Homo sapiens: one gene and its partners. The protein of the gene in region 3 interacts with the protein of the main gene of each other region in a biochemical or structural test. Each region holds a gene or a part of one and is shown on either strand. Other genes may lie near its edges. The genes, in order: HSPB1, TLK1, MAPKAPK5, POLI, YAP1 and PARK7.

The links.
Region 1: of the proteins of MAPKAPK5 (region 3) and HSPB1, one has a biochemical effect on the other in vitro, tested with the Homo sapiens proteins (4 studies listed by BioGRID and IntAct).
Region 2: the proteins of MAPKAPK5 (region 3) and TLK1 form a complex in vitro, tested with the Homo sapiens proteins (one large-scale study listed by BioGRID).
Region 4: the proteins of MAPKAPK5 (region 3) and POLI form a complex in vitro, tested with the Homo sapiens proteins (one large-scale study listed by BioGRID).
Region 5: of the proteins of MAPKAPK5 (region 3) and YAP1, one has a biochemical effect on the other in vitro, tested with the Homo sapiens proteins (one study listed by BioGRID).
Region 6: the proteins of MAPKAPK5 (region 3) and PARK7 form a complex in vitro, tested with the Homo sapiens proteins (one study listed by BioGRID).

The regions. Positions count from the first base shown.
Region 1 is NC_000007.14:76,300,549-76,305,517, reverse strand, and holds HSPB1 (heat shock protein beta-1), read right to left. Parts: upstream 2,846-4,969; 5' UTR 2,806-2,845; coding exon 2,442-2,805; intron 1,717-2,441; coding exon 1,653-1,716; intron 1,535-1,652; coding exon 1,345-1,534; 3' UTR 1,226-1,344; downstream 1-1,225. UniProt on the Homo sapiens protein: Small heat shock protein which functions as a molecular chaperone probably maintaining denatured proteins in a folding-competent state. Plays a role in stress resistance and actin organization.
Region 2 is NC_000002.12:171,048,371-171,053,307, forward strand, and holds part of TLK1 (serine/threonine-protein kinase tousled-like 1), read right to left. Parts: intron 1,805-4,937; coding exon 1,694-1,804; intron 1,581-1,693; coding exon 1,444-1,580; intron 1-1,443. UniProt on the Homo sapiens protein: Rapidly and transiently inhibited by phosphorylation following the generation of DNA double-stranded breaks during S-phase. This is cell cycle checkpoint and ATM-pathway dependent and appears to regulate processes involved in chromatin assembly.
Region 3 is NC_000012.12:111,869,220-111,874,156, forward strand, and holds part of MAPKAPK5 (MAP kinase-activated protein kinase 5), read left to right. Parts: intron 1-1,051; coding exon 1,052-1,141; intron 1,142-1,865; coding exon 1,866-1,961; intron 1,962-4,937. UniProt on the Homo sapiens protein: Tumor suppressor serine/threonine-protein kinase involved in mTORC1 signaling and post-transcriptional regulation. Phosphorylates FOXO3, ERK3/MAPK6, ERK4/MAPK4, HSP27/HSPB1, p53/TP53 and RHEB.
Region 4 is NC_000018.10:54,275,567-54,280,503, reverse strand, and holds part of POLI (DNA polymerase iota isoform a (long)), read right to left. Parts: intron 2,802-4,937; coding exon 2,649-2,801; intron 1-2,648. UniProt on the Homo sapiens protein: Error-prone DNA polymerase specifically involved in DNA repair. Plays an important role in translesion synthesis, where the normal high-fidelity DNA polymerases cannot proceed and DNA synthesis stalls. Favors Hoogsteen base-pairing in the active site.
Region 5 is NC_000011.10:102,221,299-102,226,235, forward strand, and holds part of YAP1 (transcriptional coactivator YAP1), read left to right. Parts: intron 1-2,323; coding exon 2,324-2,454; intron 2,455-4,937. UniProt on the Homo sapiens protein: Transcriptional regulator with dual roles as a coactivator and corepressor. Critical downstream regulatory target in the Hippo signaling pathway, crucial for organ size control and tumor suppression by restricting proliferation and promoting apoptosis.
Region 6 is NC_000001.11:7,959,126-7,964,551, reverse strand, and holds the start of PARK7 (Parkinson disease protein 7), read right to left. Parts: upstream 2,842-5,426; 5' UTR 2,759-2,841; exon of another isoform or gene 2,471-2,758; intron 1,790-2,470; 5' UTR 1,767-1,789; coding exon 1,677-1,766; intron 1-1,676. UniProt on the Homo sapiens protein: Multifunctional protein with controversial molecular function which plays an important role in cell protection against oxidative stress and cell death acting as oxidative stress sensor and redox-sensitive chaperone and protease.

The DNA of each region.
Region 1 (4,969 bases), on a different chromosome or scaffold from region 3:
CTGGAATTACAGGCATGCAACACCATGCCCGGCTAATTTTTGTACTTTTAGTAGAGACGGAGTTTCACTGTTGGCCAGGCTGTCTCGAACTCCTGTCCTCAGGTAATCCACCCGCCTCGGCCTCCCAAAGTGCTGGGATTATAGGTGTGAGCCACCGCGCCTGGTCCCCCATCTGCTTTCTACCTCAACTTTCCCTGGGCCTGGTGAGAGGGTGGCAGCTAGGGCAAGGGCAGACAAGAGAGAGGGGAACTGGGCCCTTGGAAGCCTGTCTACACCTGGAGGGAGGCCAGCTGGAAATAAACACAGGCAACAAGAGCTGCTGGCCCAGCCAGCAGCACAGGTCTGAGCCCGTCGGTTGGCCAGGGCTCTGCCCAATCTCCCCACCCCGAGACTCTGCGGGCTCCGTTCTCACCCCATTTCGGCTTGCCAGTTCCCTTGTGACTGCCAACAGGGATGCCCTGGCCTCAGGGAGTGTGGCGGTGACAGAGATCTCAAAGCTTGCCAGGTCCACTGTGGTGTCCTTGGGGTGTGCTGAAGCCGATGCCAAGCTTTTGACATAGTAATCCTCCCATCAGCTCTGAGGTGCAATTACCTCTGTGCCCCTTCACCTGGGACCCAACCTAGGTGCTCCTGAGAACTCAAGCCTCAGGTGCTTCTCTTATTTCCTCCTCCTTCCCCACCTTACAGTTTTAATTGCAATCGTGACCTTGCAATCATGACCTTTTTTTTTTTTCTTTTAAAGATGGGGTCTCACTCTTTCTCTCTGGGCTTTTGGTTGTTTTGAGACAGGATCTTGTTCTGTTGCCCAGGCTGGAGTGCAATGGCACGATGTTAGCTCACTGTACCCTTCACAACTCCTGGGCTCAAGCGATCCTCCTGCCTCAGCCTCCTGAGTAGCTGGGACTACAGGCGTGCAGTACCACCCTGCCTAATTTTTATTTTTTAGAGACAGTCTTACTATGTTGTCCAGGCTGGTCTAGAACTCTTGGCTTCAAGCACTCCTCCTGCTTCAACCCCCCAAAGTGCTGGGATTGTAGGTATGAGCCACTGCGCCCGGCCCTAAGACCTCTGTCTTTATGGATGTGAGTCAGCCTGTGTCCAGCAACCTACACCAGTGTACCCACATGGCCCAGCACGGGCCTGAGCAAAGATGACTCCTGAAAGCCAGCAAATGGCAGGTGCCTGAGGCTTCCTTCCACAAACACCAGGGCCTGGGCCAGTGACAGGTGGTTGCTTTGAACTTTATTTGAGAAAAACAGAAGATAAATGTATCAAAAGAACACACAGGTGGCGGGGGAGGCACAGCCAGTGGCGGCAGCAGGGGTGGGCATCCGGGCTAAGGCTTTACTTGGCGGCAGTCTCATCGGATTTTGCAGCTTCTGGGCCCCCAAGCTGGGCCCGCGACTCGAAGGTGACTGGGATGGTGATCTCGTTGGACTGCGTGGCTAGCTTGGGCATGGGGGCCTCCACGGTCAGTGTGCCCTCAGGGGACAGGGAGGAGGAAACTTGGGTGGGGTCCACACCGGGGGGCAGCCTGGACGTGCAGAGAGGAAAGGCAAGCGTTACATTACACACCGGGTGGGTCCCTGTGCCCTCTTCCCTGACCCCACCCCCACGCCACCCACCCACCCCGACCTGGCGCCAGGACTCACGTGTATTTCCGCGTGAAGCACCGGGAGATGTAGCCATGCTCGTCCTGCCGCTCCTCGTGCTTGCCTTTGGGGGGAAGAGGGAAATCAGACTGCGGGGGAGGGGACTGCCTTTCGGCCCCGCTAGGCCAGAGGCCCCACCTCCTGCTTGGAAGCAGCCAGGACTGCAGGCTGGTAGGGATTAACAGAGGGGGTTGGGGATGGGGGCGTGCCCGCCGGTCTGGGCTCTCAGAAACTTCCGGAAAGTTCTTCGATTCAGAGTTTTGGGAGGAACGGAGCAGGGCGCGGAGCTGGGGAGTGAGCAGTACGCAGGCGCACTTGGAGCCGCGCACACGCCCACTCAGCGGCTAGAAACTGGCACCGCGCCAGGGAACTCCCCGCTTATCTGGGGATGGGGCTGTGGGTGGGAAGGGGACTCTGTAGAAAAGCGCATTTTCTCTCTTCATCGATGATCTTTAAAAAAATTTTTGTTTGCTTTTTTTTTGTAATGGCGCGGGGTCGGGGCGGGGGGGCGCGTCTCGCTATGTTGCCCAGGCTAGTCTTGAACTCCTGGCCTCAAGCGATCCTCCCGTCTCGGCCTCCCAAAGCGCTGGGATTACAGAGCAGAAAGCGCCCTTAGAAGCGACCCGCACTCCCAATTCCTGAGCAAGGGAATCAGGAGTCCTGTTTTTCCCGGTGCTGGGCCAACGTTTAACTCCCCAGGCCCCCGGGACCCCCGTTTCAACCGCACGCCCCCGGCCCTGCCCGCCCTGCTAGCCTCCTCCTCTCCCCTGCAGGAGCAGGGGGGCTCACCGGTGATCTCCACCACGCCATCCTTGGTCTTGACCGTCAGCTCGTCCGGGGCGAAGTGGTTGACATCCAGGGACACGCGCCAGCGGTCCGCAGTGTGCCGGATCTCCGAGACCCCGCTGCTGAGTTGCCGGCTGAGCGCGCGGCTGTAGGCGGGCGCGGCCACTGCGGGGCTCTCGATGGCGGCGGGGGGCAGGGGGCGCACGTAGCCTGGCCAGCTGCTGCCGCCTAACCACTGCGACCACTCCTCCGGCAGCCGGGGCAGCCCGAAGGCCTGGTCGAAGAGGCGGCTATGCGGGTACCAGTCGCGGAAGGGGTCCCAGCTGGGGCCCCGCAGGAGCGAGAAGGGGACGCGGCGCTCGGTCATGCTGGCTGACTCTGCTCTGGACGTCTGCTCAGAAAAGTGCGGGGCGCTGGGCTCGGCTGCGCTTTTATGCTCCTCCAGTCGGGTATTTTTAGCAGGCGGTGTTTGAGGTCTCTATTAATGGCAATGACCCGTTTGAGGGCCGCCCCTCCCCATGCACTCCTCCCCCAGCGTTCAGGGGCCGTGGGCGGGGCGAAGAGGGTTCAGCCCTCATCTGGAACCTTCTCTCGTTAAGGAAAGCAAATGAATTCGAGAGCGCGACGCTGGAGCCGTGCCACGGCAGGGCACTCGCCGGCCCTGGTGCTTAAGCGTTGCTGGCTGTGGCCCGTGGCCAGGGCCGTCCTTCTGTTAAGGAGGACAGAGCCAGACAGGTTGGGTTGGGGCATACAACTGAGAAGTGGCAGAGGCAGGATTGGAACCACACGCGTGTGAGATAGAATGTGATAAAAGGAGTCTGGTGCTTGAGCCCAGGAGTTGAGGCTGCAGTGAGCTATGATCTCACCACTGCACTCCAGCCTAGGCAACAGATCAAAGTCTTGTCTCTCAAAAAAATTTTAAAAAGGGGCTGGGTGCATGGCTCATGCCTGTAATCTCAGCACTTTGGGAGGCCAAGGCAGAAGGGTCCCTTGAGGCTAGGAGTTTGAGACCAGTCTGGGCAACATAGTGAGACCCTACTTCTACCAAAAAATATTTAAAAATTAGCTGGGCATGGTGGTGCATGCCTGTGGCCCCAGCTACTCCAGAGGCTGAAGCAGGAGGATCCTTTGAACCCCGGTGAGTAGAGGCTGTGGTGAGCTGGATTGCACCACTGCACTTCAGCCTGGGCTACAGAGCAAAACCCTGTCTCAAAATAAGTAAATGAATAAATACAAATACAAAAATAAAGCAGTCTGGGCTGGGCGTGGTGGCTCACGCCTGTAATCCCAGCACTTTGGGAGACCGAGGTGGGAGGATCACCAGAGGTCAGGAGTTTGAGACCAGCCTGGCCAACATGGTGAAACCCCATCTCTACTAAAAATACAAAAATTAGCTGGGTGTGGTGGCGGGCGCCTGTAATCGCAGCTGCTGGGGAGGCTGAGGCAGGAGAATTGCTTGAACCCAGAAGGCAGAGGTTGCAGTGAGCCGAGATCTCACCACTGTACTCCAGCCTGGGTGACAGAGTGAGACTCCATCTCAAAAAAAAAAAAAGAAAAAAGAAAAAAGCAATCTAGTAATCTGGTGTGGTTGTTAGGCGTGTGGACTTTGAAGCCAGACTGCCTGAATTCACATCTTTGTTCCATCACTAAGCAGATGAACTTGTGCAAGTTAGATTCTTTGTGCCTCAGTTTCCCCATCTGGAAAATAGAGATGATAATGATGGTAACAGTCATGCATTGCATAAAGATGTGTAAGTCAGCAAGGGACAGCAAATATGAAGGTGGTCCCATAAAATTATATTACTGGCTGGGTGCAGTGGCTGACATCTGTAATCTTAGCACTTTGGGAGGCTGATGTGGGAGGATTACTTGAAGCCAGAAGGCTGGAACAAGCCTGGGCAACACAGTGAGACCCCATCTCTACTAAAATTCAGAACAAATTAGCCAGGCATGGTGGCGTGGACCTGTAGTCCCAGATACTCAGGAGGCTGAGGTGGGAGGAGCACTTGAGCCAAGGAGGTCGAGGCTGCAGTGAGCCTGATGGTGCCACTGCACTCCAGTCCGCATGACAGAACAAGACCCTGTCTCAAAACAAACAAACAAAAACAATTACCGTGTTTTTACTGTACATCTTCTATGTTTTATTTATTTATTTATTTATTTATTTTGAGATGGAGTCTCCCTCTGTCGCCCAGGCTGGAGTGCAGTGGCCTGATCTAGGCTCACTCCAACCTCTACCTCCCAGGTTCAAGTGATTCTTCTGCCTCAGCCTCCTGAGTAGCTGGGACTACAGGCAAGTGCCGCGACACTGGCTAATTTTTGTATTTTTAGTACAGATGGGGTTTCACCATGTTCGCCAGGCTGGTCTTGAACTCCTGACCTCAAGTAATCCACCCGCCTGGGCCTCCCAAAGTGCTAGGATTACAGGCGTGAGCCACCGCGCCTGGCCATCTTCTATCTTTAGAAACACTAATACTTACCCTCATGTTGCAGCTGCCTTCAATATTTGGTGCAGTCATATGCTGTAGAGG
Region 2 (4,937 bases), on a different chromosome or scaffold from region 3:
TAGTAGCAGAGCCTCTTGCTCATAAACACTAAAAAATTATCTTCTCCTGCTTTCCACTTTACTGTTGATATGTTAGTTCATGCTTTAATCACCTTTCATCTGGATACCCCTCCATCTTAACTACCAATAACATTCATCCTCTAATAATATTTTCACATTACCATCAGTTATTATTCTACAACTATCACTGTAGATATCATTCCGATCACGTACACTATATGTAAACCTTTAACAAGTCCCATTATCTGCAGAATTGAAACCCAAACTCTCTAATATCACAAGGACATTATCCTTTGTTTCACTGTGGTATAACTAGCACAGATATGTTGAAGAAAAGTTGAATAAATCTGCTGAGAGAGAAGGCCATTCTGTGGCAAGTCCTAGGAGGCAGTGTTTGAACAGCAATGTTGGTGTGATACCATGTGAAAGTAAGTTCTGCCTCTATTTCAAATAACTGGATACTCTGGAAAAGCTGATGTTCATGCTGGCATTACTCCCCATTTTCAGGTTTAAAAAAATTTTCCACCAAAAACGGAGTAGCATATTTAGCACTCCTTAACACATAAACAGCCAATAAATCCTTTTCTACCACCATCTGAACTCAAGAAAATATGGTAACTATAATTCCTCTGTTTAAAAGTTTGATCTGAAAAGTAACAGAAAACCAAACACCGCATGTTCTCATGTATAAGTGGGAGCTAAACATTGGAGACACATGGACATAAAGATGAGAATGATAGAAACTGGGGGCTACAAAGATGAAGGAGGCAGAGACAGGGGCAAGGATTGAAAAACTACTGGGTACTATGCTCACTACCTGAGTGGTGGGTTCAATTGTACCCCGAACCTCAGTATCAAGCAATATACCCCTGTAACAACCTGCATATATATTCCCTGAAACTAAAATAAAAGTTGAAATTAAAATAAATAAATAATAAATAGAGTTTACCTCAGAAACGCTAAAGCCACATGTTCAGTTTAACTGATAAATCAGTTATTATATCTGAGGCAAAAGAGAAGTTTTTTCCCTTAGGAATAGAGAGCAGGCAAGTGCTGAACATTAACATGTAAGGATTGGGGAATGGGAAAAAACTAAGTAGGAAAATCCTAGGAAATAAACACACACACAAATCTTCCAGTGAAAATTAAATTTTCAACAATTTCCCTCTCAAAACATCATCTGTAAAGCTAAAGGTTCAATTAATATCTCGGAAAGTCAGAATTAGAATAATATATTACATTCTATAGATGACTGCTAATTAATCAAGAAATTACTAAGCTAAAACTGTAATACTCTTGGTTTCATATCCCTTTCAAAGGTACTAAATTCTATGATTTCAGAGTAGCGAGGAACTGGAGAGCATAATTACAAATCTATAATCTTTTAAAGTAATGAAAACCCAAACGAATACTAAAAACTTTTAAATGTTAAGAATGACTAACTTCACAAGATTCTGAAATGCAAAACCATCTGTCCATTGTTCAGTAAATGAAGCGCCATGTCTAACTGTTGTAAAGTGCCCGAGGCGTAATCGATCTTGCATACTCTTCTCTCTGCTTGACAGCTTTTCTTGTGTACTCTGAAAAGGAGAAAAAAAATCATCACTCAATTGTATTCATTAATTTATAAAAGCATACAAAGCAAAAGGGGCTAATGAAGGGAAAGCGAAAATTTACTCAACTTTTAGCCTACCTTTTCAATAAGAAGTTTCTTGCTCATTGATATGCACTTATTTAATCGTTCTTTGTATTTTTCAAGTAATTTTTGTTGTTCATCTATTTGCCGTCTGAGATCACAGTTAGCCTATGACATAAGTAGAAAATGCAAGAGGTCTAGACTGGGGAATATGAAAAGCTTAGAAATAGTTTTAATGTTCTAAATAAATTATATACAGATAGGACTAATAATATTAAATATCTGAGTATGATACGAGAAAAAAAAAAAGCCTACTTAACCATGAGATAATACTGTTAAATGTTACTTAAGTGTGTAGTGGAAAGTACATACAGGGAAATTTGTATCCATATCCATACATTCAAATCCATACTCTAAGGTTAACTTTGGCTAAGTTATAAGAACTTTAGTTCAGCTTTCTTATTTCTAAATAGAAGCAACACAATCTACCTCACTTTGTTAAAAATAACTAAAATATGGTATATAAAGTGTCTATCACTTAAAAATAAATGTGAGTTTTCCTCTATCTCTTATAATTAACAAATTAAATGTGGGTTTTCCTCTATCTCTTATAACTAACAAAATATTTTCTCCACTGAACTTATAAATGACATACACAAGTTGCCTACCCAACAACTGTCCTCACCATTCTTCCTTAGCAATAGGATACTAATTCTGTTCACTTTGTAGGTGGCCATATGCTCAGAGAAGAGGCTTCCTTCTAACATCAAAAGATGAGTCTGATTAGTACAGTGGCAAGAGAATAACCTATAGGGCTTGTTACAACAGATTACTGGGAACCATTCCCAGAGCTTCTGAATCAGGTCTCAGGAAGGACCTGAAAATTTCCGTTTCTAATAAGTTCTCCAGTAATACTGATGCTCCTGGTCTGAAGATCACACTTTGAGAATCAAAAGTCTAGGCCAACCATGGTGGAATCCACAAGACAAGGGCACAAAATCTTAAAAGTGCTGAGAGAAAAGAATTGCCAACCTAAAATTAGATACCCAACACAGTTGTTTTTCAAGGAAGAGGAAACAGAATTTAGCACCAATAGACCCTCAGCAATTCAAACAAAATCTCAACACTGTGTGTGTATGATGCATATGCAACTTGAAACCTGATTCTAAAATTTCTCTAAGACTGTGAAGGGCCAAAAATAGCCAAAAAGAAGAAGAGGATATCTGTTTAACCATGTATCATGACTTAACATAAAGCTACATAACTATGATCACCCAAGCCTCCTCCTTCCTTAATAATGGAAATTCAATGTTTTATCCTGGATTGCTATCTGCCTAGCCAAATGACTACAGTTCCCAGCTTCCCTTAGAGCGAAGGATGGTTAATGAGATGCAAGCAGAAGTTGTTCAATGAGATATCCAAGAAGGCTGCACACAGAATTGTGCTTTGTGTTCTCTGCTCCCATCCTCCCTCCTGTTATCTGCTTAGAACACAGATATAATTGTGACCCTAATAGATATATTGAACCTTGATGTGACCTTTGAGATATAAGCCATGAACTAACAATGACAAGGTCCCTTATGATACTGAGGAGTAATAATATCTGAGCTGCCCACTTCTGTTCTTCTCTTGAAAAATAAGCTTCTATCTCATCTGAAGTACTGTTATTTATGTTCACTGTTACTAACAGCCAAAAACAACTGATAAAAATTGTTTTATCAACAATGATAAAAAGATGCTGCAGTACTTGTGTAGAGACACAAACAGAACAAGGAAACATGATACAGAACACAGAAACAGATCCACCTGTATACTGGAAACAAGATTTTATGATGATAGAGCTGGCAGTATAAGAATGAGCTTTTAATTAAATGGGGATGAACAACTGGTTATCCATATAGAAAGAAATTGAAATGAAACCCTACATCATGCCATACCCAAAACCAATTTCAGTAAGACTAATAATTTATATTGAAAGATCAGCTGGGCATGGTGGCTCATGCCTATAGCCCCAGCACTTTGGGAGACCAAGGTGGGAGGATCACTTGAGGCCAGGAGTTCAATACCAGCCTGTAGACTCCCAGCTCTACAAAATAAAAAAAAATCAGCCCGGAGTGATGGCATGAGCCTGTAGTCCTAGCTACTTGGGAGCCTGAGGTAGAAATATTGCTTAAACCCGGGAGTTTGAGGCTACAGTGAGCTATGATCCCCCACTGTGCTCTAGCCTGGGCGACACAGTGAGACCCTGTCACTTAGCGGGGGAAAAAAAAGACCAGACCAAAAAACCTTGAGAAATAACTGGTATTATACAGTAAAATGGAAAATGCGTATGCCCTGTACTCTGGCTATGTCTTTCCTAAACATATACCACAGAAAAATTCTTTCATATGTGCCCTGAAGACATGTACAAAGAATGTTCTTAGAACTGTTTATACTAGAAAAAGTAGAAATAAAATGTCAACTAAAAGCAGAAAAGATACAGAAATTATGGTATACTTGTAACACCTTACAATATTGCAATGAAATGAACAAACTACAGTTATACTCATCAAAGTGGATGACTCTCTGATATATTTCATTGAAAACAAGCTGGGCAAAAGGGTCCATACTGGAAAATTTCACTTAACGTTCAAAAACCAACTGAAATAATATGTTGTGAAGAATGTAAGCACATATTTAATACAACCATAAAGAAACACCAAGGCATCACAAATACAAAATTTAAAATAGTGGTTAAATGGTAAATGGGTGTGAGAAAGTAAATATGACAGGATCAGGAAAAAGACACACTGGATGTTTTAAAGACACTGTCAAATACAGTAGGATCACAGGTGTTGGTTTTATCGAGTTTCTACACCAGTAGTTCTCAATGCTGTCTTAAATTAAAGTTATCTGGGAGAGCCTTTAAAACTACCAATGTCCAAGACCTACATCATCATCAACTTGATCAGAACCCCTCAGGGTAGAGTTTCAGGCATTAGTACTTTCACCCTTCCCAACTGGTGAGTCTAAGGAGCATCAAGGGGTAAGAACTGCTGCTTTAAACCCTTACATTCTTAAGTATACTTCTAGATGTATTTTTAAATAAAGCTTCCATTAAAAATCCTACAGAACTGCAGCAGTTACTTCATCGTATAGGTATCAGATGTCAGGCATATAATAAAATCAATAAACTTTAACATGAAATGGCTATTTGTGTTATGGTAGTTGGTCATATAAATGTTATTAACTTCCAGTTCTCCAACAGTTTCTCAATTCCCAATTTATTGAAGATCTAATAAAATATTTCACTTTAAAATTG
Region 3 (4,937 bases):
AGATTGTATGGTATAAAAATGTATTTTAAGAGAATTGTACATAAGATGCTTCCTGCATGTGAGCCACCTTTCTGTGATTTCTTCAGATTTAATAATATCCTAAGATCTTTGTAATTCTGAATTATTCCTGGTTATATTCTATGTTGACATCACATTTTATTGCTGTAGAAATGATTTATGTCACAAACAATACTAGGAATCCAGCTGATAATCACTTCTTGCAGAGGTGAAAAGCTAAACCCTCAAGGCTTATCTTCATACCAGGCAAGCAAAGCAAAGAGAATTAGGAAGCACAGCCCAATTGCTTCTTAATAAAAAGTTCTTCCAAGTTTCCCATGAACCTTAAGCAATTTTGGATGCCTCCTTTCTGGTAGGGAGGAACTGATACTTGGATTGCTGAGAAAATGCCATATGGAGAGTTAAAGAACAAGTAAAATCTGTTCTTTCTGTTTGATTTTTAAAATTATACCTTTAATTTTTTCAAATATTAGGATTAAAGGATGAGCTCTGATAATCTTCTATAAAATAAAACCCCTTCAAATCCACATAAACAGGCAACATTTTCAACAAGCATGATGAGCAAAATGAGTTTCCAGTATGAATTGGAAAAACCCAGTCAGCTGATTTCTTGACCCTCAGCTCCCTGGAGAGTGCCATTCTTGTCTGAGCCCTGCTGTGGGAACTGCGCCTGCTGACCATTGCTCAGCTTAGGTGTTTCTTCTGCAGTGTCTGTCATACCTCAGATGAATGAAAGTGGGAGCATTTCATTTTTCCCATTTCTTACAGGATTTACCCATCAGTTTATTCTGACAAAGAATTGCTGTACCATCATATTTTTCTTTCTGTCTGACAAAATACAAGTTGCAGTTAAACTAAGCTTAATCCATTCTGTTTCTTGGTATTCCAAGTTTTTCTTAATTTCTGCTTTAAAATTGAAAGTGAACGCAGTCTTAATGAAGGCTTGTTTTTTGACATCCTGAGTTCTCTACGCCAGGTGTATTAAAGAGTGGTCTTTTCTAAGAAGCGACTGTTTCATTGTGTCTTTTTTCAGATAGCTTTGGCTCTGCGGCACTGTCACTTGTTAAACATTGCGCACAGAGACCTCAAGCCTGAAAATCTGCTTTTTAAGGATAACTCTTTGGTGAGAAGACTGTTTTTCTGCATTTTAGTGCTGCAACTCTTAACATAGTTCAGGAGTGGGTGTGTTTGGAGCGCTCTGAATTCATGGTGAAAAAGCTTTAAGCCAAAGTGCTTCAAACAGCTTATTTCTTCAACTCGTTCCCTTGCTAGAGGCTCAGAGAAGCTGTACTACTGTACTCCCGGCATTGATAATTTTGGATGATACTGATATGTATTTGTGGGACTTAATGATTTTGGATATTATTTGGAGGACCTTTGGGAAGGGGCAGGAATCTGTATGCTGTTATATATTATCTCGTTTCATTTGCTGTTTTCCCTTTCAGCTCTGTCCCCTGCCCCATGTCTCACCAGATAAGTTGCTCTGTCTATCATGAAGCTTATGGCAGATATTAAAAGTGAAGTAGCATCCCAGATTGATGAGAGGTGATGGGCTTATAGAGTGAAGGGTCCCTAGGCCAAGACCTTGACGTTAGTGCTGCCCTTACAAGTTCTAAAGCAAAAATAGCTGTGTGAGTGGGTAGGAATTCCTTACTTCTGCATTACTAAGGACAGTTCCTCAGTGTGAATCATTGTCTCCAGACCTGGGGACATGTTATTTTCATAAGTTCGCATCTCAGCTGGAAAGAAACTTGTTAGATCTCAGGGTAACATGTCTTACACCTGGATTTTCCTTTAATGTTTACTGAGCACTCTGGAGCAGTGACTCCTTTTTTTTTTAATTTCAGGATGCCCCAGTGAAGTTGTGTGACTTTGGATTTGCCAAGATTGACCAAGGTGACTTGATGACACCCCAGTTCACCCCTTATTATGTAGCACCCCAGGTAAGCATGTGCGGTTTCTGTCCTAAGATCTGTCACCAAGCTGCCCATCAACTCGTGTTCCTTCTATTCTACAGCACAAGTAGGCATATATTACAGATGGGAGGGGGAGAACTTAGCTTTAGAAACCTACAGATTGCTTTATTTGGTGTAGATCTTTTATTCTTTTAAAATCAACTTTAGCCAGGTGCGGTGGCTCACGCCTTTAATCCCAGCACTTTGGGAGGCTGAGGCGGGTGGATTACAAGTTCAGGAGATGGAGACCATCCTGGATAACACGGTGAAACCCTGTCTCTACTAAAAAAAATATAAAAAATTAGCCGAGTGTGGTGGCGCACACCTGTAATTCGTGCTACTCAGGAGGCTGAGGCAGGAGAATCGCTTGAACCTGGGAAGTGGAGGTTGCAAGGAGCCGAGATGGCACCACTGCACTCTAGCTTGGGCGACAGAGCGAGACTCCGTCTCAAAAAAAAATAAATAAAATAAAATAAACTTTATTGAGGTATGATTTAGAAGTATGATTTACATACAGTAAAATACCTCCACTTCAAGGAGAGTTTGATGAGTTGTGACAAATATATACCCCATATGGCGACCACCACATTGAAGATGTGGAACACGCCCCTCACTTCACAAGCTGCCTGTGCCACTTTGCAGTCAGTCCCCTCCCAACTTAACCCCTGGCCCTAGGCAACCACTGACATGCTTTCTGTCATTATTGGTTAGTTTTGCCTGTTGAAGAATTTCAGAAAAATGTAATCGTGGACTTTGTATGCTTCATTTCTTTTGCTTAGCATGTTTTTGAGATTTGTCCATGTTCCTGCATTTATCACTCGTTAATTCCTTTTCATTGCCAAGTAGTATTTCATTATATACCTAAGCTGCATTTGTTTTTTCCATTCACTGACAGGATTTTGGGTTGTTTCTCATTTTTGGCTATTATGAAGAAAGCTGCTAGGAACACTTCTTTTACAGTTTTTGGGGGACATGTTCCCCCATGCCCATATCTTTTTTCCAAAATGGCTATACCATTTTATGCGTCTACCAGCAACGTATAGAGTTCCAGTCATTTCACATTTTTACTAACGCCTCATGCTTGTTGCTTGTCAGCATTTGTCATCTTAGTCATTCTGGTAGCGGGCAGAGTATTACTTCATTATAGTTTTAATCACGACATTGTCCTGATGGCCACTATTTTGGAGCACTTTTTGTACATGTGTATTGGCCATTCTGTTGTAAGTATGGGCATTCATCTTTTGCCATTTTGTTATTGTTGGTTTCTTGTTAAAGAATTGAGGTATAAGAATTTTAAAATATTCTGGACACAGGTTCTTTGCCATATGTATGTTGTATTCTTACTGCTGCTGTAACATATTGTCACAAACTTAGTAGATAAAAACAACAGAAATGTATTATCTTATACTTCTGGAAATGAGAAGTCTGAAATGGTACTCAGTGCTATAATCAAGGTGTCAGCAGGGCTGTGTTCCTTCTGGAGGCATTTCTTGCCTTTTCCAGCTTCTAGAGGCTGCCTACATTATTTGGCTTGTAGCCTCTTCCTTCATCATCAGAGCCAGTAGCATAGCATCTTCCAATGAGTGTCTCTCTCTATGACTTTGACCCTCTTGCCTGCCTCTTATAAGGACCCTACTGATCACATTGGCCTTACCTAGATAACTCCCCATTTTAAGATTCTTAACTTAATTGTTCTGCAATACAAGGTAAAATAATCCCAGGGATTATAACATGGACATCTTGGGGGGCCATTATTCTGCCTTCCATATATATATCATGAATATTCATCTCAGTCTGTGACTTGCCTTTTAATTTTCTTAATGGCCTTTGAATAGCAGAAGTTTTGAATTTTAATGAAGTCTGTTTCACCATTTTTTTTTTAATGCTTAGTACTTTTTGTTCCTAAGATCCACAAGCATAAATATTTTCTCTGATGTTTTCTTATAAGAGGTTATAGCTTTAGCTTTTACATTTGGGTCTGTAATTCATCTGAGTTTGTGTGTGTATGAAATGAGAGACCAGGTTCTTTTTTTCCCCCTTAAGGGTGTCAAGTTGTTGCAGCATCATTGGTAAAATGTTTTTTACAAATCATCATTTGTAAAAGGATTTGTAAAAGGATTGCATCATTGAATTGCAGTTTTTTGTTTGTTTGTTTGTTTGTTTTTGAGACGGAGTTTCATTCTTTTTGCCCAGCCTGGAGTGGTGCAATGGCGCGATCTCGACTCACTGCAACCTCTGCCTCCCGGGTTCAAGGAATTCTCCTGCCTCAGCCTCCTAAGTAGCTGGGATTACAGGAGCCCGCCACCATGTCCGGCTAATTTTTTGTATTTTTAGTAGAGACGGGGTTTCACCATGTTGGCCAGGATGGTCTTGATCTCTTGACCTCGTGATCCGCCTGCTTCGGCCTCCCAAAGTGCTGGGATTACAGGCATGAGCCACTGCGCCTGGCCTGAATTGCAGTTTTGTTGAAAACCAGCTGGCCATATATCTGTTGGTCTTTTCTGGATTCTATTCTGTTTGTTTAATATATGTATGTGTCTATAGCAAGAGCATCTGCATTATTGTAGCTTTATATTATATCTTGACTTCAGATTCATTCTTTTTCAAAATTGTTTTGGCTATTCTAGATCCTTTGCATTTCTCTACATTTTAGAATTCACTTCTGTATAACAGAAAAGCCTCCTGGGATTTGACTGGGGTGGTATTTAATCTATAGGTGAATTTGGAGAGAACTGATATCTTAACAATATAAGTCTCCCAATCGATGAACAAGGTATATATCTCTCCATTTGTTTAGGTCTTTAATTTTCCTAAAAAATGTTTATGCTTCTTAATGTTACAGGTCTTGCACATATTTTCTTAAATTTATCCTTAAATTTTGTTTTTGGATGCTGTTGGAAATGATATTGTAAAACATTTCAGCTGGGCGTGGTGGTTCACGCCTGTTATACCAGCACTTTGGGA
Region 4 (4,937 bases), on a different chromosome or scaffold from region 3:
CCTCATGTTGTAATTTGATCCCCAGTGTTGGAGGTGGGGTCAAATGGGAGGTGTTGGGATCACAGGGGTGGATCCCTCATGAATAGATTAAAGCCCTCCCTCAGGGGTAAGTTTCTGACTGTATTAGTTCCAAAGACAGCTGGTTGTTAAAAGAGCCTGGCACCTCCCCCAGCCCTTGCTTCCTCTCTCACCATGTGATCTCTGCACACACTGGCTCCCTTTTGCCTTCCACCATGAGTGGAAACAGCCTGAGGCCCTCACCAGAGGCCTAACCTTGACTTTTCCAGCCACAAGAATCATGAACCAAATAAACCTTTTTTTCTTTATAAATTACCCAGTCTCAGGTATTCTGTTAAAGCAACACTAAATGGACTAAGAGATCACTGCCACCCTGTTATCCACTTGACTAATCTCTTTCATGCTTCATAGGAATACTGTAAACAAATTCAATAAGCAAATTCCAAGGGCCTGTGATAGTGACTGTGTAGTGGGAGTGCTTAATAATTAACACATTGTGAAAACTGATCTCATAAAAAAATTCCTACTGACATTGGCAAAACTTTTACTCATATTTACCCGTAAGTAGGCATAGAAGTATTATTATATAACAAGAAAGCTAACATTATACTTTAAAGATCTAAATCTTAACCACGCACTAGCAGTATATGCTGCTAGAAACAATCTCTGACCTGTACACAGTTTTAGAGCTCTTTTATGAAAAGTGTAAGAAAATTATATAAAAATAAATTTGCTTTAGGTGTAAAACAGTGTTGGAATGACATGAAACCATCCTAACCTCAAAGAGACTAACGCTAAAAGTATTTAGAGATGAAATGTCAGGATGTCTGCAATTTACTTCCAAATAGCTCATCAACCAACCAAGCAATCCATAGAGAGAACAAGAGAAAGCAAATGTGGCAAAACGATAACAACTGGTTTATCTACAAGAAAGGACATAATGGGCCAGGAGTAGTGGCTCATGCCTATAATCCCAGCACTTTGGGAGGCCAAGGCAAGCGGATCATCTGAGATTAGGAGTTCAAGACCAGCCTGGCCAACATGGTGAAACCCCGTCTCTACTAAAAATAAAAAAATTAGCCGGGTGTAGTGGCACATGCCTGTAGTCCCAGCTAGTCGGGAGGCTGAAGCAGGAGAATTGCTTGAACCCAGGAGGTGGAGGTTGCAGTGAGCCGAGATCACATCACTGCACTCCGGCCTGGGCGACAGAGTGAGACTCTGTCTCAAAAAAAAAAAAAAAAAAAGAAAAGACATAATGGGTATTTTTTGTACTATTCTGTCAACTTTTCTGTAGGTTTACAAAAAATTTTAATAAAATCTGTATGAAAGAGGAAGAATTAATCAATAATTCCACATTTCCCTTTTTGGGATATAAAACCTAGCTCTCTATAATGTACTCTAACCAATAAAATCCAAGTTTGCCTTAAAAATTATACAGAAATATATTTGAAATATTCTTGCTAGTTAGCCCTTTTAAGTTACAAATGAGCACAAGTACAAAAGATACAGGAAAAGCTCCATGTATTCTAGAAACTGTGGTTCTACTGCTTTTCTTCTGTGGAGAACTATTCTGTAGACCGATGTCTAGTTCTCAAAAAAGAGGATAAGAGGAAATGCATGGGGAGGCTTAAGAGCAAAAGGGTCAGACAAGTCTTACACAACAGCAGAGTACCTTGTCTTGTATGTGGTATGATAGGGGAGTCACCAGCAGAGTCATAAGATGTCTGAAAGCCTAATCAGATATTCACTGGTGCTTACTGCAGCTTATTTTCAAATGTAAATATCACTGGAAACACCATCAGTCATTCATATCTCAATATATGAAGGAGACAAACCATTCTGCTTTCTTGCTAACTTTGACAAAGATTATTTGAACAGATTAAATAGGAGCTTGGAGAAGATTCTAGCACATGGCAGATAGCCCTGGACAACATTCCAAAAGTGCTAACTTGGGAATTCAGAGAGCAACATGAGGGTCTCAGGGGAATCGAAGTGAACATGTAAAACACACATCAAAGGGGAATCGAAGGGAACATGTAAAAGACACATCAAAGGCAAATCTAGCCTACCTGAAAACTCTGCTTAGAGATTGTTTTAGAATAATAAAAAATTATTCCAAAAAGCATATTAAGAAGCCAACTCTTACAACTTAAGAATGACCTACAGAGGTATGGCTTTTTGTTTCCTTAAGAGATGGGATCTTGCTCTGTTGCCTAGGCTGGACTCAAACTCCTGGGTTCAAGCAATCTTCTCAGCTCAGTCTCCCAAACAGCTGGGACTACAGGGGCGCTCCACTGTGCCCAGCTGGGTATGGCTTTCTAAAATGGGAACCAATGCACTGTGTCAGACGAAAACTCTGCACAGATGAATGCTCTGTGCAGATGAACAGGAACAATGCTCTGTGCAAATGAAAAGTGCACAGAGCATTGAGCTACATGTCATCAAAATCTTAACACTTATTATGGAATAGCAGCACCTAATTTTAGCTGTCCTAGACAGATTACTGACTAAATATAACTATACCTCCAACAAAAGTCATGAATCTTTCAGAATCACACAGCGAACTCACTGAACATTAAGAAATGTATGTACTTTTGGTTAGTAGGTAGAATGAATAAGAACCCACTCACACTGATTATTGTATACATGACCCGACACAGTCACCGCAGAAAGTTCATCACTTTGCAGCTGCTGTAGTCTCTTCTCAACCATTTCTGTTAGATCCACAAAATTTTCATCAAATCCAAGTCTCTCAACAACTGGACTAAATTCTTCCAGTAATTCTAAATTGAAATAATATTGGAGCACAAATGTAAATGAAGTTATAACTAGGATAAATTTAACTATCTAGTGCTTAAAAATTTATCAAATTTATTGTTAAAGGTTTTATATACATTCATAGTTCCATAATATCTTTAATAAAGCCCTCAGTTAATTGACGTTTTTTCTGTACCACATCTTGTATAAAGGCAATATTTTCAAAAAAGTCTAAAAATGACATTCCTAGGGCAGTTATTCATGGCAATATATCTAGCTCAATCTTCTACACCTATAATTTTTATATCTGTAGTACATTAAATATCAATGCTTATAGTAAATTGGTGACCTTGAAGAAATGTGTCAAAGAATAAACTATAGGCTGCTCAGGAAAGTTAAAAACAAGTAATAGTATATTTTAGCTATATTTTCTCCAAGAGTTTAAAAGAGGCAAAACAAAATAATATTTAAAATGTCCAATTATTACTGAATAAAACAGAAAGTCAGTCAACTTTCAAAATATACTATAACGTGGTATTTTTATTAGCCATTCCCAAGAATATTCCTTAGGACAGAGAGGCAGAGATGAACCACAACTTACAGGTATTCAAATGCCCAGCGTCTAGCACAATATCTAGTCCTCAAGTCAAATGTTTACTAGATTAAGCTGAACCAAAATTCAAAATAAATTCAAAAAAACTATCAATTTTCATATATTAACATTGAGACTAATAACTTTAAAATCATTGAGAAAGTTTTTCACTTCCCTCTGAATCACTTTCTACTGACACCAGCTGGATAAGAGAAAACAAATGCAAGTCTCTTAGTATACAAAAATGCATAGATTCTTAAGGTCATATAATCTGAAGCTCAGAAATAAAAGGACTATCTCATTCCACATAGATCATGTTTTTTCACAAACACCAAAGGTGCTTTTTTGTTTTGTTGATGTCAACATTGACAATGTGAGGGGAAACCAATAAAGGTAACAATGTGACATGGCAAACACCAAAAATCACTCCTGAGAAAACTATTACCTAGAGAAAACTATTACCTCCTTTCAGGACAGACTGACAATATGTCTAATCAAAGAAAATGATTGTTTTGCATTTCCTTCATCAATTTCGGCAATTTATTTTCAAAAGTATATACCTGATATGCAAAGTAACATGTAGAAAACAAGAGTTTATCAAAAGAATACTACATAAGAAAAATAAAGGATAAGGCTTTAAGCACTAAATAGAAAAGCAAGTTAAATACAGAATCATGCACGAAGCTGGTGGATCACTAAATATTGACTGATTTTAGGTCACAGGACAAATCCCTAATTATCCCGTCCCTGAAGGTTTTTGTTGTTGCTGTAGTTTTAATGAGACAGGGTCTCACTGTTGCCCAGGCTGGAGTGGAGTAGCACACCACAGCTCAGTACAGCCTTGACCTCCTGGGCCCAAGCAATCCTCCTACCTCGGCCTCTGGGACTGCAGGCACATGCTACCAGCTAACTTTTTTTTTTTTTAACTTTTGTAGAGACAGGGTCTTGCTATGTTATATTGCCCAGACTGACCTCAAATGATACCCCACCACAGCCTCCCAAAGTGTTGGGATTACAGGCATAAGCCACCATGCCCAGCCTCCATTCCTGAAGTTAACCTCTTTCTTGGTATCAACTTCATAAGCAAGATACATTTATTAAACATATAATTATATAGGGCCCAAAAGAGGAGTCTGTAATTACAGAAAAAAAAAATACCTTGAAGAAAGGTATATATGCAGTAGCATCAAAATATGAAATAAATAATAAGGTTATAAACAGATCAGAGATAAATACAGTAAAGGACTAACTGGCTACGCGCCTACTTCAACTCAGAAAAATACTGTGAGAAAAATTGATAAAGTAACTTTTTTCAAAAAATACCTAACACAAAAAGTACTAGGTACTTAGTACTTAGAAAAAGATGAACAACCCAAATTAAAAACAGGTGCAAGTGAATACGTTAACAGAAAAAAATACATAAATGACCAAAAATATATGAAAAAATACTCAACCTTACTCATGGAAAACTGCAAATCAAAACAATGATTTACTCTTCTTCATCTATATGATGAATATGAGAGGAGGCATTTAGGCCATAATTTTACACATTTGGAAAAACATGATACAT
Region 5 (4,937 bases), on a different chromosome or scaffold from region 3:
CCCTCTCAGGACATTGGTGTTTGTTTTTTTTTAAAGTACAGGATTGAAAAGAAAAGGAATTTCATTGATACAGTTAAGAAAATATTAAATAGAAACTTGTGATATAACGTGCTTCTTTTTAATGTATAAATAACAAGATCTAAGGCTGGGTGCAGTGGCCTATGCTTGTAATGCCAGCACTTTGGGCGGCCAAGGAGGGTAGATCATCTGAGCCTGGGAGATTGAGACCAGCTGGGCAACATGGCAAAACCCTGTCTCTACAAAAATACAAAAAATTAGCTGGGTATGGTGGTGTGCCTCTGTGGCTGCAGCTACTCATGAGGCTGAGGCAGGAGGATCACTTGAGCCTAGAAGGTCAAGGCTGCAGTGAGCTATAATTGCATCACTGCATTCCAGATTGGGTGACAGAGTGAGACCCTGTCTCAAAAAGATTAAAAAAAAAAAAAATCTAGAAGCACATCTTATAACGTAACTACTGTAGCATTGAAATAGCAATGATCATAAATGGTATTTTAAAATATTTGCAACAACTACAATGTGATATGAAAACATTTATATGTTCTATTGGTGAAAAGTTAGGTACAGTGAATACTAATGGTGCATACTACATTGGAGAAAATGTTGACAAATTTAGCGAAAGTTAATGTGTAATTTTTTTTTTTTTACCCCATTGAAGTTCAGAGACTCTCTGAATTCTGTCATGGTCCGCTGGTTAAGAAACTCTGGTTTAAAGGATGGTATATCCAGAAGGCATAAACCTAAAGAAAAATAAGTGGTATTTGCATGCAGGAGAATTGTAGTTTAGAAGTGGCAGCGTAGAGCTAGGAGAAGCTTTCCATACTTCAGGACCCCATGGCGATTGTGGAGGTGAGGGCTGGAGATGGTGGGGCCGTGCCTCAGTGAGCAGACTTGGCTCAGAAAGCTGTGTGGAAGGATGACGGAGTCAGGCCAGTATCCTTTGTGATAAGAAACTGTATGTATTTCAAATCAAACCCAAAAAGTAGAGGGAAAGAAAGCTGATGGTCTAGTAGAGATGATGTTTACGATAGGTGGAGAGGCACAGTGAAAATTCTTAGGAGGGTAAGAAACAGTGAACAGATAAAGGAGAGAAAAAGGACAGAGTAGTAATGAGTGTGCTACGGATGGGTCACAGTGAGATGAACTGTTTTTGAGGTCCTGGGCAAATACAGGCTGAAACCTGGGAGGTTTGGAAGCCCTTGAAGGCAGGCCTTCTGCAACCATCAGAGTAGCAACCTACAGCCTTTGCTCAGGTTTACAGGGAGAATCCTGCTGAGAAATTGTTGGATGACCCTGAAGAAATTTTACCCCATTTTAAATATTATGTTTGTGGTGGAGAAGCCTTGGGTTTGTGTTTTAACTTCTGATGTCTTTTTTTCATTTTCCTCCTCTCTCCCTGCTAGAGGATGGAACATATTCTATCCAGCTCAGGATAGAAAAACCTAAAGTCAAAATGAGACATTTAATAGCAAAGTGTGAAATAGTGTTGGGGGTTGGGGAAGGATTGGTGTCTTATAGTAAAATCATCAGATGCTATTCTTCCTACTTCTTTTTTTTTGGCGGGGGAGGGGGTCGGGGGGTTCCAAACACACAAAACCATATAAGAGTTGTCGAGTAAAAGCAAACTTTAAGAATTATTTTTTTAGGGCCGGGCGCGGTGGCTCACGTCTGTAATCCCAGCACTTTTGGGGGGCCAAGGCGGGTGGATCACGAGGTCAAGAGATCGAGACCATCCTGGGTAACATGGTGAAACCCCGTCTCTACTAAAAAAAATACAAAAAATTAGCTGGGCGTGGTGGTGCGTGCCTGTAGTCCCAGCTACTCGGGAGGCTGAGGCAGGAGAATCACTTGAACCCAGGAGGCGGAGGTTGCAGTGAGCCAAGATTGCACCACTGCACTCCAGCCTGGTGACAGAGTGAGACTCCGTCTTGAAGAACAAAAAAAAAAAAAAAAAAAGAAGAATTTTTTTTTAAAGACCAGACTTGCCATTCTATAATAACCCAAAGGAGGATTTGGGAGTATCTTCCAGAGTAAGGAAAATAACAAAAAGAAAACAAAGTAGCAAAATGTATATAGGGTGGGGGGTGGTTAATATGACTAGACAGACTTTAAATATATGTAACTTAATTTTTAGTCATTTGAAATGGATAGAATTAGGTCATTCTGATTGGGAAATGTATTAACTTTAAAGTAGATGTTTTTAATCTATCTGCACGGTTACTCTGATGAACGTTTTATTTCTTTAAACCTAACATTAAATGTGTTAATCAGTAGATTGATTCTCTTTGGCTTTATTTTTAATTAGGAGTTAGCCCTGCGTAGCCAGTTACCAACACTGGAGCAGGATGGTGGGACTCAAAATCCAGTGTCTTCTCCCGGGATGTCTCAGGAATTGAGAACAATGACGACCAATAGCTCAGATCCTTTCCTTAACAGGTTGGTGAAAGTTGCTACTGGTGAATATCTGAAAAGGATCATTGCTTTAAAATCATTCTGCTTAGTGCTTGTAATAGGCTATTTGGAACATCTGTGTGGGCCAAAAACCATAGCTGTAAATGAATCTCTCTGTAAATGGCAAGTACATGCAGAGTTGAGGATTAAAAGTTGTCTCCTGTGAGAGGAAGTGAACTGTTCAGACTTGTACAAGGGATACTTATTCAAAGTCATGACGTGTTTGCTTCTGCCTATACTGTTGACTAACAGTTACTTAAAATTACAGAATCATGAAGGAACATGTGAATGCCTTTCTGTGAAAGCAAATGAATTTCATGTTAAACCTACTTAGGATTGCATTATAAGGATCACTGGAAGGAATTTTCCACATAGCTATTCAAGCTAAAACGTTTCACCCAGCAGCACTGTAAGGCCTCATGTTCTTAAGGGCTATAGTCCAAGGAGATAAAATGTAAGGTTGTGCCTCTTTCAAAAATGCACTAAGATTAACGGCAGTATTTGAAAATAACATAGCTTAGGGATGCTTCTTAGTGAGTTACCACAAATCCTGGGTTTCAGACAGATTGCAATATTACATAAACTGCCATTTTGAAGTCTGTAAGCTGAAACAGGTCATATTCTTTGCCTAGGAAGTCATTTAAGATTAAGATTTAACTAAAATTCCTTCTTCTAGGTTGTGGAGTTTCAAACTTTTTAAAATATGGGATTAGTTTACGCTTTGGATTCCTTTTCTAACTGATTTAAATAACACACTTTCTTAAATACTCAAAGGTATTTTGCACTAGGAAAACTATTACACCACCTTTTCAGTTCTCACCAATTGAATTGGAAACTTAGTAATTCCAAGAGAAAATATCTTATCCTGCTAAAAGTATTTAGTGCAATAGAATTCACCATTTACTCAGTTTTTAAGATTAGTACTGGTGGCCTAGTTGGAAGGTTTGATTTTGAAGACCATCTAAAATGTATTTTAAGTTTGTATTTACTCTTCTGACATACACTTTAAAGTTCTAAAAGTAAGTGTATTTATATAAGATTATAGTTCTAGACTTAAACTGAGGCTAATTAAGAGAGGCATAGCCTCAGAACTTTTTTTCCAACAAGGAAAATTTCATATCCATGTAATTCCAGTACCTGTCTTGTTGAAGGGGCTATATTAATCCCAGGGATAAAAATTAGACCATTTTAAAAATGGATAGGCTGCATATCCTTCTGACAGTCACTTATGAAGATTTTTTTTCTTAAAACTTTTGATGAGAGCTGGGCTACAATTTGAGATTCTATTTTCTGGGAAGATCAGAGTGGCAGATAATCAGTGTTACTAATCTAAGGGCAGAATTGTATATGCATTCTCTGCAGTACCCCCAGTTTCTAATAATAACATACATCTGACTTTGACTTTTTTTTTCTTTAAAAAAAAAAACAACTCTTGGCTGGGCATGATGGCTCATGCCTGTAATCCCAGCACTTTGGGAGGCCAAGGCAAGTGGACCACCACCTGGGGTAAGAGTTCGAGACCAGCCTGACCAACATGGCGAAACCCCATCTTTACTAAAAATACAAAATTAGTTGGGCATGGTCACGCATGCCTATAATCCCAGCTACTCGGGAGGCTGAGGCAGGAGAATCGCTTGAACCCGGGAGGCAGAGGTTGCGGTGAGCCGAGATCATGCCGTTGCACTCCAGCCTGGGCAACAAGAGTGAAACTTGGTCTCAAAAAACAAAAAGACAAACAAAAAAACCTCTTGATGGTTTTTCCCTTGTTTACTATTTGATTTATGTATATTCCTTAAGCTCTAAATACTTTTTGCCCCAACTTGCCTTGGCATTGACTCTTAGTAGTAATGCTGAGTTCCCTTAGTTCCCTTTTACTTTTACCCTCAAAGCTCACTCAGATGTCCCCCTCCATGAAACTTTTACCCTTTACTTCTAAGCTCCCTGTTTGTTCTGAAAGCACTGTGCTTACATCTGAGTTCATATAGCCCCTAAATATGATTCATTAGTATATTTGTTCATTTCCCTCCTTGAAGTTGTGAGCCTCTCACAAAACATTGTTTGTAGGTGGTGGTGATTGTTAACCTCTTTATCCTCAAAGCCTAGTCTAATGCCTGTCATGTAGTAGCAGATGCTCAGTGAATGTTTACTGAATGAGTGGGGCCTGTAGGAAGTGGGGTTCTGCAGGGAGCAGTTCCTCACCAGGAAAATGGCCCTGTAAACTCTGTCCTCAGGAATGCCCATGTGCTTCCCCTGTGGTTTGGAATGAACTCTGCGCAACTCTGTAAGTTCAGTTATTCAGTAATAGACTAAAATGTCTGATGTGTGTCCCATGCTTAGCAGCCGAATAGAGTGATGACTAGGACCAGGCTCTTGTCCCAGATCAGGGCAGGCAAAATACAAACAAACCACATCCTGAGGCCTTCTCATATATGGCTGCATTGTATACCAATGGTCTCAGAGGCAAATGT
Region 6 (5,426 bases), on a different chromosome or scaffold from region 3:
ACACAAGAATACGTATTACAGAATTGTAATGCTGTAATTAGAGGAATGGGTAGATTGTGGCATTCAGTGCAACACCAAGCAGCAATTTTAAGTGGATAAACTTAATCGACATGTATCTTCATTTCTGAGAACCAGAGGAGTATAGGGTTAACAGACTCTGGGGCCAGGCTGCCTGGGTCTGAGTTCTGGCTTTTGTACTTACTACGTGATGTGGGTACATTATTTATGTCTCTGTGCCTCAGTTTCTTCAACTGTAAAATGAGGATGGTGATATCTAACTCACGACATTGTTGTAAGGTTTATCGGCACTTAGAATGCTGCCTGGCACAGAGTTAGTTCTACTTCACTTCACTGTTCACTATTTTTAGATAGAGAGAGATAATATATAAACACGCAAAATGAGAACCACGGTCAAATGCTACCTTAAAGACATGCGTGGGGGCGGGTGCAGTAGCTCACATCTGTAATCACAGCACTTTGGGAGGCCGAGGTGGGTGGATCACGAGGTCAAGAGTTCAAGACCAGCCTGGCCAAGATGGTGAAACCCCATCTACTAAAAATACAAAAAATTAGCCAGGCATGGTGGTGCGCACCTGTAATCCCAGCTACTTGGGAGGCTGAGGCAGAGAACTGCTTGAACCCAGGAGGCAGAAGTTGCAGTGAGCTGAGGTCACACCACTGCACTCCAGCCTGGGTGACAGAGCAAGACTCTGTCTTAAAAAAAAAAAAAAAGACACACATGCATGGATACACAAGAGTGCGAGGATAGCACTTATCTTTAAGGAAGGAAGAAGGGGCATAGGATTGGAGAAATTTACAAAGGGGGCTTCAAATGTATTTCTTTGAAGCATCTGCTCTTTAAGAAACGAGTCTGAGGGGCCGGGCATGGTGGCTCCTGCCTGTAATCCCAGCACTGTAAAAGGCTAAGGCGGGCGGGTCACTTGAAGCCAGGAGTTCGAGACCAACCTGGCCAACATGGTGAAACCCCATCTGTACTAAAAATACAATTAGCCGGGCGTGGTGGCGGACACCTGTAATCCCAGCTGAGGGTGAGGCAGGAGAATCTCTTGAACCCGGGAGGCAGAGGTTGCAGCGAGCAGAGATCACACCACTGCGTTCCAGGCTGAGCGACACAGAGAGACACCATCTCAAAAAAAAAAAAAAAGAAGAAAAAAGAAATGGGTCTAAGGACAGTGCAGTGGCTCACGCCTGTAGTCCTAACACTTTGGGAGGCCTGAGGCGGGTGGACAACTTGAGCTCAGGAGTTGGAGAGCAGCCTGGGCAACATGGCAAAACCCTGTCTCTACAAAACATACAAAAATTAGCCAGGTGTGGTGGCACGCATCTGTAGTCTCAGCTATTTGGGAGGCTGAGGTGGGAAGATGGTTTGGGCCCAGGAGGCAGAGACCGAAATGAGCCAAGATCCTGCCATCGCACTCCAGCCTGGACGACAGAGCTCAAAACAAAAGAGAAATGGGTCTGAAGGAAATATGGCAAGACATTAACAAGCGTTAAATGTGAGCAGTGGATCAACAGGTATTTATTCTTATGTCATCTCTGAAATTTTGTGTATATTTGAAATATTTCATAGAGCACTTTGAATATTTTATTCAAAATGATTTAAAAATCCAAAAACATTTAAAACAGGAATGGCTAAAAATCGATGTGGGACTTACCCCAGCTCGCCTCATGACATCTACAGGGATGACCGTCTCCATTTCCTCTGCTCCTTTAGCCAGGATGACCAGAGCTCTTTTGGAAGCCATTTTTATGTTATATGTTTACAAGCCTTAAAAAAAAAAAAAAAAAAAGATTTCAAAAAACTTTCATTGCAACCCTGAGATACCCCAAAATTTAAAGTTTAGGAGCATTTTCAAGCAGAGTAAGTACTTCCTAGGGAAACGGTTTTCATAGACAACTGAATACGAAAAAAGCAGCAGTTTAGTTATCTTAACGTTGATTTGTATAGCAGTTTTAATTGCTCTGAGATGAAAACATAATGAGGGTGCTAAAAGGTGTAGTATTGCTTAGATTTTCTTCTACCATGTTCTCTTAAATCCAACTTTAATAGTATGTTGCAAATGGGTTTTTTAAAAATACAAGTACGTGGGTCTCCTGCATTTCACACAATGCGGGGAAACAGTCTTTTTTGAAGCACTGTTTCAGAGAAACGACTAAACTGAATTTCATGGGCAAAAATTTAAATGTGGTCTTTCGCAATTAACTTGTAATTTTTTGGAGGGGATTTTTGTTTTCTTAGTTATAACTGTACTAAAAAATTGTGTGTGGGGGTCAACAGTGTTAAATGTCTGAACACTTTTTTTAATGACTGAGAAAGATGGAAATCCCCTCACTGAAGTCAACCCAACTACATCTGTCTCTCTGCGCGGAGTTCTCACTGCCAACGACAGCAGCTCAACGAGGTTCCGAATTTTTTTTAGCCTATTTACAGATTATCTGGAGGGTTTACCGTCCACGCAAAACAGAGTTTAATAAAACGGCTAGCCAGTTCCATGCCGGCGAGAGGTTAGGCAGAAGATTCTGGACGCTTCAGCGTTGCCACCACGCTGGCGGTCAGTCAAATCCAACGCCAGCGACAGGGCCCGACTGGGAGGCCGGAAGCGAGGGCGGCCCCGACCCAGGCCCCGCGCCGGTTCTGAGCCAGCGGGACACCGTCCAGCACAGGGACACCGTCCAGCACCCCCACGCCGCCCAGCGCCACGGCCCACACATGCGCCGCGCCCCCGCTGGCGCTGACCTGCACCCCGCGCCTCTTCCTGCGGACGCGGCGCCCCGGCCCGTTGGGTACCACTCACCCCACACCAGGCTGAAAATGAACGCACGCCAGCACGCACGCGCGCCGTCCGGCCTCCCTCAGCCCCACACTGCGCAGACTCACGCCGCCTTGGCCTCACGCTGCGTCACGTCCGGCCGAGTCTACCTCGGACTGAGGCGGGGGTGGCACCGGGGAGTTTCTAGCTGGACAGCCCTGGGTGAGGCGGCTCGGTCCCACATGGTACCCCCCACGAATGGCACAGTCCGGCCTGCCCCGGCGCCCGCGGGGCTTAACAGTCTCTACCGCCACCCTCCGTGAGGAGCCGGTCTCTGGAACTGCCGAGGGACTGGGGTTGTCAGAGGGGTTCCTTAGTTCGCGCTCCGTGCACGCCTGCTCCCTTTGCGTTGTTCCTTTTCTGGCGCGCCTTCCCGTTTCGCCTCTGGTCTGTTAGGACTCTGGTCCAGGCCTCCCGGACCTCTCCCCCACGCCTGGTCTCCCGATCTCGGGCGACTCTGCCGCATTTATTCACACCCGGATGTCTCAGGGGTGTGAGTTTTTTTCTCAGCATTGTTTGTTTTCTTTAACGATCCTGATGCTGCTGCACCCACAGGACTAGAGCAGTGCTGCGCACATAAGTCTAATAAGTACCAAGTTGGTCAGATGTATTTACATCATAATCTCAAGTTGTATTTATTGATATGTAAGAGACGTATGTGTTTTCTGGGTACATGTGGTATTTTGATACTTTCATATAATGTGTAATGATTAAATCAGGGTAAATGAGATCTCTATCACCTTAAACATTTGTCTTTATACTGGGAACATTCCAGTTACTCTCTTCAATAATAACATTTTAAAATATACAACAGATTACTGTTAACTATAGTCACCCTACAGAACTCTGCCAACGCTAGGTCTTATTCCCTCTTAAGGAGAGCACAGATCACCTGGTGACCATCAAGCAGGCCCCTTATCTGAGGAATTTAGAAGTAATTAGATATCCCTATTATCTAAAGTTGGCACCTGGTACCAGGTTAAATCAAAGGAAATAGTTAAAGCCCAAAATTCTTGAATGAGCTTAGAAGGATCCTGGCTAAATGAACGCAACTTGGATTGAATTTGCAAAAAATGAGACATTCGAAAAGGGACATGAAAAATCCACCGCGGCATGCTCAGTTCTCTCTTGCTGAGGCTGCACTCTTCTGCAGCGTTCTAATAAAACTTTCCTTTTTCAAACCTATATTGTTGTCGATAAATTCTTCTTACCAACCAGCAAGTCGACCACTTTCTGATGCTGGGGCTCTTGACACCTTGCCCAGCACTTCTACCAATTTTTGTACCTATTAATCACCCTGTTCATCCCCTTCTCCTGGCTACCCTTCCTGGCCTCTGGTAACCACCAACTTATCTTCATGATATCCACTTTTCAACTTCCCATTTATGAGTGAAATCATGTGATGCTTGTCTTTCTTTGCCTGGCTTGTTTCACTTAACATAATGACCTCCAGTTCCATCAATGTTGTTGCAAATAGGATTTTATTATTTTTTATGGCTGAATAGTATTCATTGTGTATATTTACATTTTATTTATCCAGTCATCCATTGATGAACATTTTGGTTGATTCCATATTTTGACTGTTGTGAACAGTGCTACAATAAGCATAGGAGTGCAAATATCTCTTTGATATATTGATTTTCTTTCTTTTTTTTTTTTTTTGAGACTCCATCTTGCTCTGTCGCCTAGCCTGAAGTGCAGTGGCACCATCTTGGCTCACTGCAACCTCTGCCTCTGTGTTGAAACAATTCTCGTGCCTCAGTCTTTCGAGTAGCTGAGACTACAGGTGTGTGCCACCATGCCTGGCTAATTTTTGTATTTTTAGTAGAGACAGGGTTTTACTATGTTGGCCAGGCTGGTCTTGAACTCCTGACCCCAAGTGATCTGCCTGCCTCGGCCTCCCAAAGTGCTGGGATTATAGGCGTGAGCTACCGTGCCTGGCCCTTCCTTTCTTTTTGGTATATACCGGTAGTGGGATTGCTGGATCATATGGTAGTTATGATTCCAGAACTTATGATTTCTCAGAAGTTAATCTTCTGAGGATTCCATATTGTTTTCCATAGTGGCTGCACTAATTGAGATGCTCGCCAACAGTGTATGAGGTTCCTTCTTCACATCCATCTCAGCATGTTATTCCCTTTTTGATAAAGGCCATTTTAACTGGGATGAGATGATATCTTACTGTCTTTATTTGCATTTCTCTGATTAGTGACATTGAGCCCTTTTTCATATCTCTTGGCCATTTGTATCTCTTCAGAAATGTCTATTCAGATCTTTTGCCCACTTTTAAATCTGATTGTTTTCTTGCTATTGAGCTCCTAATATATTCTAGTCATTAGTCCCTCATCAAATGGATAGTTTGCAAATATTTTCTCCCATTCTGTGTGTTGTCTCTTTGCTTTGTTGTTTCCTTTGCTGTGCATATACTTTTTAGTTTGATGTAATTCCATTTGTCTGTTTTTGCTTTTGTTGTCTGTGCTTTGAGGTCTTTGCCCAGATCAATACCCTGGAACATTTCCCCAGTGTTTTCTTTCTTTTCTTTTCTTTTTTTTTTTTTTTTGAGATGGAGTCTCGCTCAGCCGCCTAGGCTGGAGT